Regions from separate parts of the Homo sapiens genome. Here region 2 is linked to region 1. The links come from fine-mapping of genetic effects on gene expression. Tissue or cell type: tibial artery. Region 1 holds a variant in brackets; the other region holds the start of a gene. All regions are shown on one strand. Distances are from middle to middle.

Region 1 (6,252 bases):
CCTACTGTGAGGCCCGCTTCAATACAGTGGCCTTCTATAATTTTTGGTTAACAATTTGAATGTAGCCATCATCTCAGTCAACTTAAGCTGAATCACGCCAGGGTCATAAAACTCCCAAATTTCAGAGTTTGCTGCAACTGACATATTTTCTTGTTCACATTCACATGGGTTGACAGGCTCTGTTCCACATCATCTTCACTCCAGGGACTGCAGCTGAAGATGCAGCACATATCTTGGACATGGTGGTCTTGTGACAGAAAAGAGAGACAACAGACCCACAGGAGGGCTTTTAAAGCTTCTGTTTCAATATCACATTATAGTCACATTTTGTTGCTGAAGCAAGTGACCTTGGCTGAGGGCATATAATCTCCCGCAGGTTAGCCTGGGAGGGAGGGGCAGCAAATATTTTCACAGGGGTACAATCAACCACACTAGGTGTCCCAAACCCTCTTTTGTTCTGTGTGCTTTTCATGCTGTGCTTAAGAAATAATTCCCTAACCAAATGCCATAAAAAAGATTCTCCTACATGTTCTGTGAAAGACTTGATTTTTACATTTGTATTTTTGACCTATCTGGAATCTATATTTGGGTATGGTATGAGATAGAGATCTAATTTTATTATTTTTTTAGTTAATCAATTACACTGCCAAGACAAGCTCGGTTGTGGAGACCCTAACCCAGTGGCACTAGAGAAATTAAAGACACACACACAGAAATATAGCATGTGGCCTACAACGGGCCATATCATTTGAGGTTGAGGTGTCACTATACTGCTATGTTTCCAGATAATAGGAACTCTTGCTGTACTTCCTACCATTTCTACCATCTGACCATTTTGTTCAGACCAGCTGAACATAGTGTGGCCGTGGCATGCAGACTGAGAGGTGCTATTTAAGCTAAATGTCCCCTTAGGGGACCAATCAATAATGATTCCATAGGAATCGTTGCACAGCACCTCTGCCTGTTCTGCAATTCAATCTTCCCAAACAAGTACATTCATTATTTCTAACTGGGTCCAATCCTGTTTACAAATAAGTTTTTGAGGGCGGTATGCCTCAATTATAGGAGTAGATTTATTATGGTAAATACTGAGACCAGAAAGCATGTGTAACTGTCATAAAGTGATTACATCCAGGCATTATTGCCAGCCAAGATTGATAAATATGCCCAATAAGTATAATTATTCTCTGTGTCAGCCCTTGTTGAAGGAATACTCATGGCAATGGTGATCACCGCTATCATAGCTACCATTAAGTTACTCATTGTGACTGGTTGTCCCGCTTTCCTCAGGTTTTCTTCCGCCATCTGTGACAGCTTCTTGATCTGTCCCCAGGTAGGTGGCTGTGTTCGACAGGTGCTGCTCGTGACAGCTGGGGTCCTTCTCAGTGTCAGTCTCAACATGGCTGTAACTGGGGGGTCCTCAGGATCCTCCCGGAATCTCTTCCTCGGCATCTGGCTCATGATAAGGTTTCAGGTGTCCTGATGATATCCAAATTGGCTGTTGATTTGGTCCTGGAGAAACACAAGCATAACCTCTACCCCAAGTTATTATTTTACCTATTTCCCAACTTTTTGTTATCGGATCTCTCCACCAAATGAGTTGTTCTGCCTCTGTCTTTGCAGCTGGTTTCTGTAGATGCTGTTCAGCTTCTGATAGCATCTTGCCTTTCGGCAGGCTCAAAAAATTTAAAATTATTAATGCTAGATTCAGTTGCATTTGGGATGTCCCATAGTCACTATTTCTCCCCCTTTTTTGTTTTTGTAACTGCTGTTTCAGGGAGAGATTCATTCTTTCCACTATGGCTTGCCCTTGAGAATTATATGTGATACCAGGAATGTGTTTAATATTCTATACAGAGAAAAATGTAGCTAGAGCTTGGCTAGTATAGTCTGGGGCATTATCTGTTTTAATAGAAGCTGGAATGCCCATCACCACCAAACACTGCAAAAGGTGACATTTAACACAGGCAGAAGACTCTCCTGATTGGCATGTAGTCCAGACAAAGTGAGAAAAGGTGTCCACACATACATGTACATAAGCTAGTCTCCCAAACAAGGGAACATGTGTGACATCCATTTGCCAAAGAGAGTTAGGTTCCAATCCTCGAGGATTAACTCCTCCTGTAAAAGATGAGGAATGTACCATTTCACAAGTTGGGCATCGCTGGATAATAGCTTTAGCTTCTTTCCAGATAATGCTGTATCTGTGTTTGAGACCAGAGACATTAACGTGTGTTAAATTGTGAAAGTGTCTAGCATTAGATATTGCATTAGCAACTAGGCGATTAGCCATTTGATTCCCTGCAGTCAAAAGTCCCGGAAGAGGTGTATGAGCCCTAATGTGAGTGATGTAAAAAGGGTGCATTCTTTTTTTTTTTTTGAGACAGAGTCTCGCTCTGTTGCCCAGCCTGGAGTGCAGTGGTATGATCTCGGCTCACTGCAAGCGCCACCTCCTGGGTTCACGCCACTCTCCTGCCTCAGCCTCCTGAGGAGCTGGGACTAGAGGTGCCCGCCACCATGCCTGGCTAATTTTTTGTACTTTAGTAGAGACGGGGTTTCGCCGTGTTAGCCAGGATGGTCTTGATCTCCTGACCTCGTGATCTGCCTGCCTCAGCATCCGAAAGTGCTGGGATTACAGGCATGAGCCACTGCACCCAGCAAAAAGGGTGCATTCTACTCTTAACTGCTGTTTGCAATTGAGTAAAGAAAGTCATCAGTTGTTCATCTGTATGAAATCATAACTGAGCATTTTCAATTAATTGTGTGGAATGAACCACGTGTGAAGAATCAGAAATCACATTAATAGGCATATCAAAAGCAGTGAATACCTCAATTACAGCTAAGCTGAAGTATAGAGCATTTGGAAAACTTTACCTTTTGATCCAGAATAAGAAGCTTTACCATTACTAGACCCATCTGTAAAAA[C/T]ATTCTTAGCACCTTCAATTGGTTTAAATTAGTTATTTTAGGGAAAATCCAATTAGTTAATTTCAAAAATGGAAACAGTTTCGTTTTAAGAAAATGGTTATCGAGAATACCCACAAAGTCAGCTAAATGGGTTTAATGAGTAAGACTATTTATAAAAGCTTGCTGTATTTGTGCCTTCATGAGGGACAATAATTTTTCCAGGATCATATCCATGTAATTTAACAATCTGAGTTCTCCCATTTCCTATCATAGTCACGGTTTGATCCAAATAAAGAGTTAGAGTCTGTGAATTAGTATGTGGAAGAAAAAGCCACTCTACAAGATCTTGCTCTTGAACAATAATACTAGTAGGTGAATGCTGAGTTGGAAAAATTAGCAAATCTAGAGTCTTCTCTGGATCTATTCAATTTATTTGAGCTTTATGGACTTGCTTTTTGATTAGCTGCAGCTCTGCCTGAGCTTCTTTTGTTAATTGCCAAGGCTAGGGAGACTAGGATCTCCTCTAAGGATAGAAAATAGATTACTCATGGCATAGGTAGGAATGCCTAGAGCAGGTCATATCCAATTAATGTCCCCTAGTAATTTTTGAAAGTCATTTAATGTTTCCAATTGATCCCTACATATGGCTACTTTGTGTGGCACAATGGTAATATCATTTACTAAGGTCCCCAAGTAGGAGTAAGGAGTAGCAGTCTGAATTTTGTCAGGAGCTATAATTAAGCCAGCACGAGAAATTGAATTTTGCAAGTGATCATAACATTGGAGTAATATTTCTTGAGTGGAGGCAGCACAAAGTATATCATCCATATAATGAATAATGTAACACTGTGAAAATTTTTTACGAGTAGGTTCAATTGCTTGCCCTACATAAGTCTGGCAAATTGTTGAACTGTTTAATATGCCTTATGGCAACACTTTCCAATGATAACACTTAGCAGGCTGCAGGTTGTTTACTGCAGGAATTGTAAATGCAAACCATTCACAGTCTTGCTCAGCTAAGTGGATAGTAAAGAAACAATCTTTTACATCCATGACTATTAAAGGCCAATTTTTTGTAATCATAGAAGGAGAAGGCAATTCTGGCTGTAATGTCCCCATAGGTTGTATAACTGAATTAATGCCTCTTGAATCAGTTAACATTCTCCATTTACCTGATTTTTTCTTAATTGCGAAAACTGGAGAATTCCAAGGGGAAAATATTGGAGCTATGTGTCCTTTTTCTAATTGTTCATTAACTAATTCCTTCAAAGTCTCCAGTTTCTCTTTACTTAGTGGCCATTGTTCTATCCAAATTGGCTTATCTGTTAACCATTTTAAAGGTATAGATTCTGGAGGCTTAACAATGGCTGCCATCAAAAATGATATCCTCAACCTTGGCAGGAACTTTGTCTTTCTGCTTGAAGCAGTTCCTTCAAACCTTGCAAATTTTTTCCTAGTCCCATACCAGGGACATATTCCATTTCATGCATCATATGTTGACTTTGAGGGCTATATAACTGTTCTAGAATTAGAACTTGTGCTCCCCATTGTTGTAATAAATCTCTTCCCCATAAATTTATAGGTACAGAAGTTATAATTGGTTGAATATTCCCAGGTTGTCCATCAGGCCCTTCACAGTGCAAAATATAACTACTTTGATATACTTCAAGGGCTTTACCAACTCCAGCTACATTAAATTGAGCGGGTTGAATTGGCCACGTGGACGGCTGGTGCTGTAGAGAAGTGATTGAAATGTCTGCTTCTGTATCTACCAAACCTTCAAATTTCTTTCCTTGAATAGTTATTTCACAGGTAGGATGTTTATCAGGAATTTGATTCACCCAATAAGCCGCTTTGCCTTATTGATTTGTGCTTCCAAATCCTCCTGTTCATTTAATTTCACTTTTCCCCATTTCCACATACAGCACAATCAGGAGCTGTGTTATAGGCTCTCCTGGCTCTGTTTTCCAGGGAACGGAAGTAGATATAACAATTTGAATATCCCCATTGTAATGTGAATCAATGACTCCTCTTTGTACTTGTACCCCTTTTAAATTTAAACTAGACCTTCCTAGAAGTAATCCTATCATCCCCGCTGGCAAGGGTCCACAGACTCCTGTTGGGACCTTTTGTGGGGGTTCCCTAGGCAGAAGACTCATAGCTTTTGTGCAGTATCAATCTACTGCAGTACTACTGGCTGTGGCGCTGTGGCGGGGGACAAATATTGTATAGGGGTGAGGGAGTGGCCTGAGCTGGAAATGCCCCAGTTTGGAACGGGGCCCAGGATGGGCCCTGCATGGCATTTCCTGAATTTAAAAGGAAAAGGCTCAAATGTAGCTATATTTCCCTGTTGATTTGGGGGGTGTATGCTAACAGGGAACTGCCAAGCCTCTAAATCATCCTTTCGTTTAGCTTGCTGAATTCCTGCCTGAATAGAACTGAGAGTGGTCACTCAAGGTGCTGCTCGAACAGTTACTGGGGCAACTACTTTTTGCCCAGTGTCCTCCAGAAAAGAAAGATCTGGAGGGTCAGGCCACTCTTTTTCTTCAAAATAATGAGGGGATGCAGAAGGGTAGGGATGAACCTCTTCCTCCTTTGCCGCTTTAGCTTTAGCTGGCAAACAAATCTGCTCTGTTACTTCTTCTGTTACTTCATTATACTCTCCTTCCTCCTCATCATCAGTGTGAAAAGGTTCCAAGATGGAATGAACCAGAGCCCACAGTTGTCCCATTGTTACCCTGATGCTTCCAAGCTCCCCTTCTTACTCACCATGGGGATTGCTTAAGATACTCAGGTGAAGTGATCCACCCACCTTGGCCTCCCAAAGTGCTGGAATTACAGGTGTGAGCCACCACACCCGGCCTTGATTCCAGGTCTTTAGATAATAACTTAATGATTTCAACTAACTGCCAATCAGAAAATCTTTGACTCCACCTGTGACTTGGAGCCCCTCCAGACCCTGTGCCTTCCCCATCCACTTCAAGTTGTCCCGCCTTTCTGGATTGATGTCTGCCTGTAACTTCTGTCCTCCTCAAATGTATAAAACCAAGCTGTAAACCAACCGCCTTGGGCACAGTTTCTCAGGAACTCCTTGGGCTTTGTCACAGGCCTTGGTCACTCATATTTGGCTCAGAATAAACCTCTTTAAATATTTCAAAAAAAAAAAAGAGTACTCAGGTGTCCTCCAGCTTAGTTCCACGTTCTCCAACCATCACTCCAATGACCCTTCGACCTGGGTTTGAGCCCCACGTATGGGCATCATTTGCTGAGACCAGCTCGGTCATGGAGACCCTAACCCAGTGGTGCTAGAGGAATTAAAGACACACACACAGAAATATAGCATGTGGA
Region 2 (6,252 bases), 100 kb after region 1:
TTTGGAGTTGTTCCTGCTTTTGCTTATTATAAGCAAAGCTAGCATAAACATTTATGTCCAACTTTTTTTTGGTAGACGTAGGTTTCCATTGTCTTGGGTGAATCCTTATAAATAGGAGTGTTGAGCCATACTTTGGGTGTAGGTTTATAATTATAAAAACTACCAAAATTTCCCAAGGTAGTTTTAACATTTTGTACTCCTACCAATATATGTAGGAGAGTTCTGGTTTTCCATGTCCTTGTCAATATGTGATGATGTTAGTCTTTTTAATTTTAGTCACTTTTGTGGGCATGAAATGGTATCTCACTTTGGTTTTAATTTGTATATTTCTGCTGACTAATGATATATAATACTTTTTCATATGCTTATTGGCCATTTATAAATTTTCCTTTGTCAAATGCCTGTCAGAGTCTTTTGCCCATTAAACAAAATTGTTTGTTCATGTTTATTATTGAATTGTAGGACATGTTTTCTATAATCTAGGATTTGTGTGTATCAGAATATTTTCAGCTATCAAGAGTATTCAGATATATGTATCATCTAGACTCTGGCTTGCCTATTCATTTTCTTAATGGTGACTTAGGATAAGTGGAAGCTTTTAATTTTGATGAAGTCTCTTTTTTTTTTTTATGGTAAGTGCTTTCTGTATCCTAAGAAATCTTTGCCTACTGCAAGGTCAGAAAGCCATCTTTAAAAAAAGTTATATTATATTTTAATAGTGTTATATATTTTAGCTTTTATGTTGAGGTGTACAATTCATCTTGAATAAATATTTGTGTTCACAATGTAAGGTAAGAGATGGCGTTCCTTTTTTCCTCATTCATGTTACGTTACTGGACATTCACTTTTAAAAAATTGTTTTATTTTATTTGTAATTGACAATAATTGTATATATTTATGGGGTATAATGTGATGTTTTGATACATGTATACATTGTAGAATGATCAAATCAGGCTCATTATCTGTCACCTCAAATATTTATCATTTCTTTGTAGTAAGAACTTTTGAAATCCTCTCTTTTAGCTATTTTGAAATAGGCAACATTATTATTAACTATAGTCACTGTGCTGTGCAATAGTACACCAGAGCTTATTTCTCCTTTCTAACTGAAACTTTGTACCTATTAACCAATGTCCCCCCTTTCCCTGTCCACCTTTCCGTCCTCCAGCCACTGGTAACCACCATTCTACTTTCTAGTTTTACAAGTTTGTCCTTTTTAAAATTTCACATATAAGTGAGATTATATGGTATTTGTCTCACTGTGCCTGGCTTATTTCACTTAGCATAATGTCCTCTAGGTTCATCTATGTTGTTGCAAATGACAGAATTTCCTGTTCTTATAAGTCTGAATAGTATTCCAGCATGTGTGTGTGTGTGTGTATGTGTGTTTGTGTGTGGTATGCATAATATATATACATTCATCTGTTGATGGACACTTAAGTTGTTTCCATGGCTATTAGAATAGTGCTGCAATAAATATGGGAATGCAGACATCTCTTCGACAAACTGATTTAATTTCCATGGGATTGGGGAACTGACTTTTGATGTCCAAACTTAGTATATAATACCTCAAAAGCCAGAATGCCAATTATTTTGTGTTATAAAGTTGTTTGGCTATCAATCCATATTTTTGCATGAGGTAGTTATCTTGCAGGTAGGCCCATTGAGAAGACTAGAAGATAGTCTTGATTGATTCTTGTTGAAATTGAAATTAGAGTAAAGGGACATCCAAACACTTATCCAATGAACTACAATGACATACAACTCACTCAAGCCTTCCTTTTTCTAAATTTTCTCCCCAAATAAAACAACAGCAGCAACAACAAAGACAACAAAAACGTATGCGTTTCTTACAGCTTTATGATGTGTTTCAGTGTCTACAGTACTGCTGAGTTTGCATCTCTTGCATGTTGTATCTTTCTGGTAACATATGGAAGAAGCTTCATATTCATATAAGTATGCTAGTTCTAAAACATAATGTGGAATCATTTACAACTCAGCACTACTTGGTAGCAATAAACAGAAACCCACCTCAAAAGAGTGTAAGCAAAAAAGGAATTGAATTAGATTACGTAATTTGAGAAGTCCAAAGGCTGGAGTTGGTTTAAGCGAAATTTGTATTGAAAATTTTTCTTACATAAAAAAGGTAAAACAAATTTGGTAAACCTAATTTTTTTTTATAGTGCAAGTAGTCAACTGTTGTCATTCTAAGAAACTATTATTTATGGATAGTAAAACTGTTTGGAGACTTTAAAAATACCCTATAACAGTTAAAGGCAGAGCAAATTACTGAAATAAAATTGCGATATTTGCCCCAAATAGTAACAGTACAATTTTCATCAGTTCTCTAGAAAATTATCTGCAATTAAAAAAAAAAGAATTCTGATGTGTTAACTCAAATTAATCAGTATTTTCTTTGTACACTCAGATTGCAACCTAAGTATTAGTCTGTTGAATTTGGTTTAGTGGATATTTATTCAGGATTTTTACAAAAACAAGGAAACAGAGAAGAGGAATAGTGCTGTGCAGATGACCTCGGGGTTCAGGCGACACTCAAATGCCTGCTTCTCCTCTGAGGTTATTACCATCTCTTACTTGTTTGACGTTTAGAGATACTACAAGAGATAGTTGAAAAGCAGAGGTTGCATTTCCAGTGGTGTTTTGCTCTGCTGGTATTTGCTCCTCCGTGCTGCTGTGCAAAGGGCCAGAACTGCATCGAATGGATCTTTTCTTCAGGTTGTGCAGGCTGGCTGCCTTGATGTCGTAGTTGCTGATGTTGGCTGCCGACGAACCTTATTCCTTTACATTTGCCTGGTCCTCATTTCACCGGAAAACACAGTAGCTGTAGCTGCACATAGACGCTTCCTCTTTCTGTTTCCCCCTCATCCCCCTCCCTAGACCTCTCTGGGCTTTGACGTCATGTGTGCTCCTTTCGGTTGCCATAGCAACCCCATTCCCCAAGCCCTCTGTCCGTCTCCTCTGGTAGGTTCCACAATGGTACAGGCAGCATCACGCTGCACAATGGTTTCCAGGCAGTGAAAGAGGGTGATTCAGCAAGCCACTCTTCTTCTATTTTCTTTAACCTCCCCTTCACTTTTTATTTTTATGGGGGTGGGTGGTGCTTGCTATATGCTTACCTTTTTCTTTTCTTTTTTCATTTTTACAAATTTCCTTTTTTGTCCTCACCCCTCAATTCCTAGGGGCTTGAGTGAGTTTAAGATTGGGTTTTCTTGGAAATCACCTGTCCATCGTTAATTTTAAACAATCTCCATATCTCCAAAGAATCTCTTCCATGTTAGTCTGGAATGTGGTTAATGAAAAACAAGTAGGGAGGATTTCTGGGGCAAACACTGCCGGATCAGGATCGTAGTTCTCAGGCACGGAATGGTAGGTGGCTCTTTGCTCGTTCTGGGTTCTAACCTGTTTTTGGAGGGTGGGGTGATGTCTATTGATTGCTCCTGGTGGGGCGGGAGAGGGAGTATGGAAGAGACGAGAGAGGTGGGGTGGAAAGCAGGTTAATCAAGTGAACTAGCTTTGAAGCAAGAAGCTACCAGTTTTTCCCTCTGTGCAGAACATCTCTTTCCAGACTTGGGCGTGTTGAAACCTTTCCATTTGGAGTGAGGGGTAGCAGAGGGAGGGAGGGAGCATTCTTATTGTGACCAGGGGTTTTTAGACCAATGCAGGGCTACAGAAGGGAAGGGAGAGAGAGAGAAACACACACACACACACACACACACACACACACACACACACACAGAGAGAGAGAGAGAGAGAGAGAGAGGAAAAAAAAAACACCAAACAGCTGTGCTTGTTAGAAGTGCTGACCTTAGTTCCATATCTGAAAAATGTGATGGGTTCCATAAAACATTAAAAATAATGTCTTTTAGTATGTATTTATGTTTACTTTTGTGAGAAGTATAATTTAAATATTTTAAGATGTATTTTACTAAGGAACAGTATTTATATATATATTAGATATAAAACTATTGGCGTTACTCTTGCAGAGCAACTCTAGGCTAAATCTGAGCCGGGGAGAGGAACACAGAACAGGGGTCAGGTTAGAGATAAGAGGAAACATTGGCACTGCAGTCAAATAGGTAAGGGGTCCCTTTAAGAAAGTGATCTCCTAGTCACAGCAGTCAGCTTTCTTTTTTTCATGGCAAGATTCCCAGGTATTCTGTGCTGGGATACTGTGTCCCCTGCAAATGTCAGAGCTCTTTTGAAAAAAAAATCAGAAATAAGTATGGCAGTATATTTGTTAGAATCTATGTATTTGTGCCTTCAACAAAATAAATGTAATTTACTGGAAAATCTGTAAGTAAATCAGGCTATAGATATTACAAGAAAACTATCTATCCATATATTTTTCTCACCCTCCCCAAACATTTAAATCTAGAGACCTAGTCTCTGCTTTTACCCCCTTAAACAGATAACTTCCCAGGGTACTGCAATTTAGCCACAGAAAAAGAATGGCTTATGCCACAGCAGTAGGCTCTGAAGCAATCACAAGGTTGTTTACATGGGCTGCCTTTGGTGCAGAGCCTGACAGTGTCTGTACAGCAGCCCTGCCTGCTTCTGGCCATGTTGATGATAACTTTTATGAACAAACTGCAAGGAAGCAGGCTAAGTCATATGGGATAGACTACAGTTCAGGTGGAAGGAAAACGAGTGTAAGTGCACCAGGCATTGCCAGCACAACATCCAATATCTCCTTCTATCCCTCATCGGCTAGTTGTCGGACCCTGGAAGATAACACAGAATGCTTATCAACATATTTAAAATAGTTGCAGTAAGGACCATTTCTCTCAGAGAAGCTTCTGTGAATTTTCTACTTTAGGTGAGCATATATGTTACAAATATATAACAAATAAATATATAAGTATATCACAAGCTTCTGACTCCACTTCAGAACCATTAGATTTTAGGGGCTGGATGCTTTGGATGTAGCGGTTTGGCTGCCTCTGGTATGTATTTCCTTCTCTACCTTGATCACACTCTTAAAATTGACATAAAGTATTGGATTAGCTTATTTTCTTATGTGGAGCAAACTGGGTTTTCTCTCCCCTACAATGGGACTAGAAAATCAGATGACAAAGGTGGTGTGACCTTAAATATTAGAGAGTCTTCATGCTTCCTCATTTGCCTGTCATTCCTCTGCTGTTGCAAAGTGTCTTTAATTTGAGGGGCTCCTGTTCTTAAAAAATCCTCACAGTTTCAGTAAAACGATTCTGGATAGTGAGGCAGTAAGAAATTATATGTAGAGTGGGAAAATCAGCTGCCTCCAGCTTCCTGCCTGCTAGCCCCAGAACAGCATCTGCTGTTGAGAGGAGTGTGTTTGCCATGCTGGAAGGGGATGTTTATGAACAGATCCCAGAGGGGCTGAGTGTGTTTTTGCTGTCATTGTCTGGTATGTCTGCAGCTATTAGTATTTAATGGTTTCATAGTACATGGTCTATATATTCTAAGGTTAGAATGAACTGATAATTTATTGTCAATGCTATAAAATGTAGATATTTTAAATTTATAGGAAAATTAATAAGATTTTCCTTGTTAGGATATCCTACAGGAACATCATAAGCAAAACAAATTTGCCCAACCTAAGTAATCTAGAAAAACCTCCCATGTTTAAAGGCATAAATATATTTTTAAGGTTTTATTGTGGTTTCATGTAAATGAATCTGTTTCTTTGGATGTAAGCCTAGTTATAAATTCTTTTTATACTGATACTAAAAGCTAAAGACAAATTGGGTATTTACTTGTTTGTTAAATATGGGGATAGATGTTCTCCCTTCATGCTCTAGTTCTGGCCTCAGGTCACATTTGTAGCCAAAGGACTTTCAGTGGAATTGGTGTGTTCAAATCGAATGATTGCTTGGTTGCTTATCAGAATAAAGGACTCAAAGCAAGAGAGACTTCCTTCAATTAGAATGAGAAGCAAACACATTGTTGTCTTAAATTCTTTCTTCATTGCCCTTTCTATTTCCTCTTACAGTCTCTTTTAAGCTTTTGGTTGGACATTGCAACAATCATGCAGAAAGAGGCACGGAAGTGTCCAGTAGTGACAAGAATGGAGTACAATGCTCTATTTGCTGCAGGACTGCTGAGTGCCTTCCTCCTACCACACATGCATCTATTATTGCACCTTCTTCTGAGGACCAAGGACTTGTGGAAAAAGTTGGGCCTATAGACTAGTAGGGGAGATGCTTACTGGTAAAGAAGAACAGAATCCATTTGCTTCTTTGGCATATTGGA

Alleles and levels. Alleles are on the strand shown, and positions count from the first base shown. SD is a standard deviation of normalised expression in the study named.
For the expression in tibial artery of the gene that starts at base 2,992 in region 2, C is the high allele of the variant in region 1 and T is the other (moderate effect, 0.48 SD a copy in GTEx).

The links. PIP is the estimated chance that this variant, and not a neighbour inherited with it, causes the effect.
Region 2: it holds the start of MAPK10, and the variant in region 1 is the best candidate, but not a certain one, in a credible set for the expression of MAPK10 in tibial artery (GTEx, PIP 0.86).

Annotation. Positions count from the first base shown.
Region 1 is chr4:86,460,948-86,467,199 of GRCh38, reverse strand. It overlaps a transcript of MAPK10 not described here. Among named protein-coding and RNA genes, the nearest start is that of MIR4452, 78 kb to the left of the region's middle. The variant C/T (reference allele first, on the strand shown) is at 2,926.
Region 2 is chr4:86,356,793-86,363,044 of GRCh38, reverse strand. MAPK10 (mitogen-activated protein kinase 10) reads left to right here and starts at 2,992. Exons shown (of 14, transcript NM_138982.4): 1 at 2,992-3,387.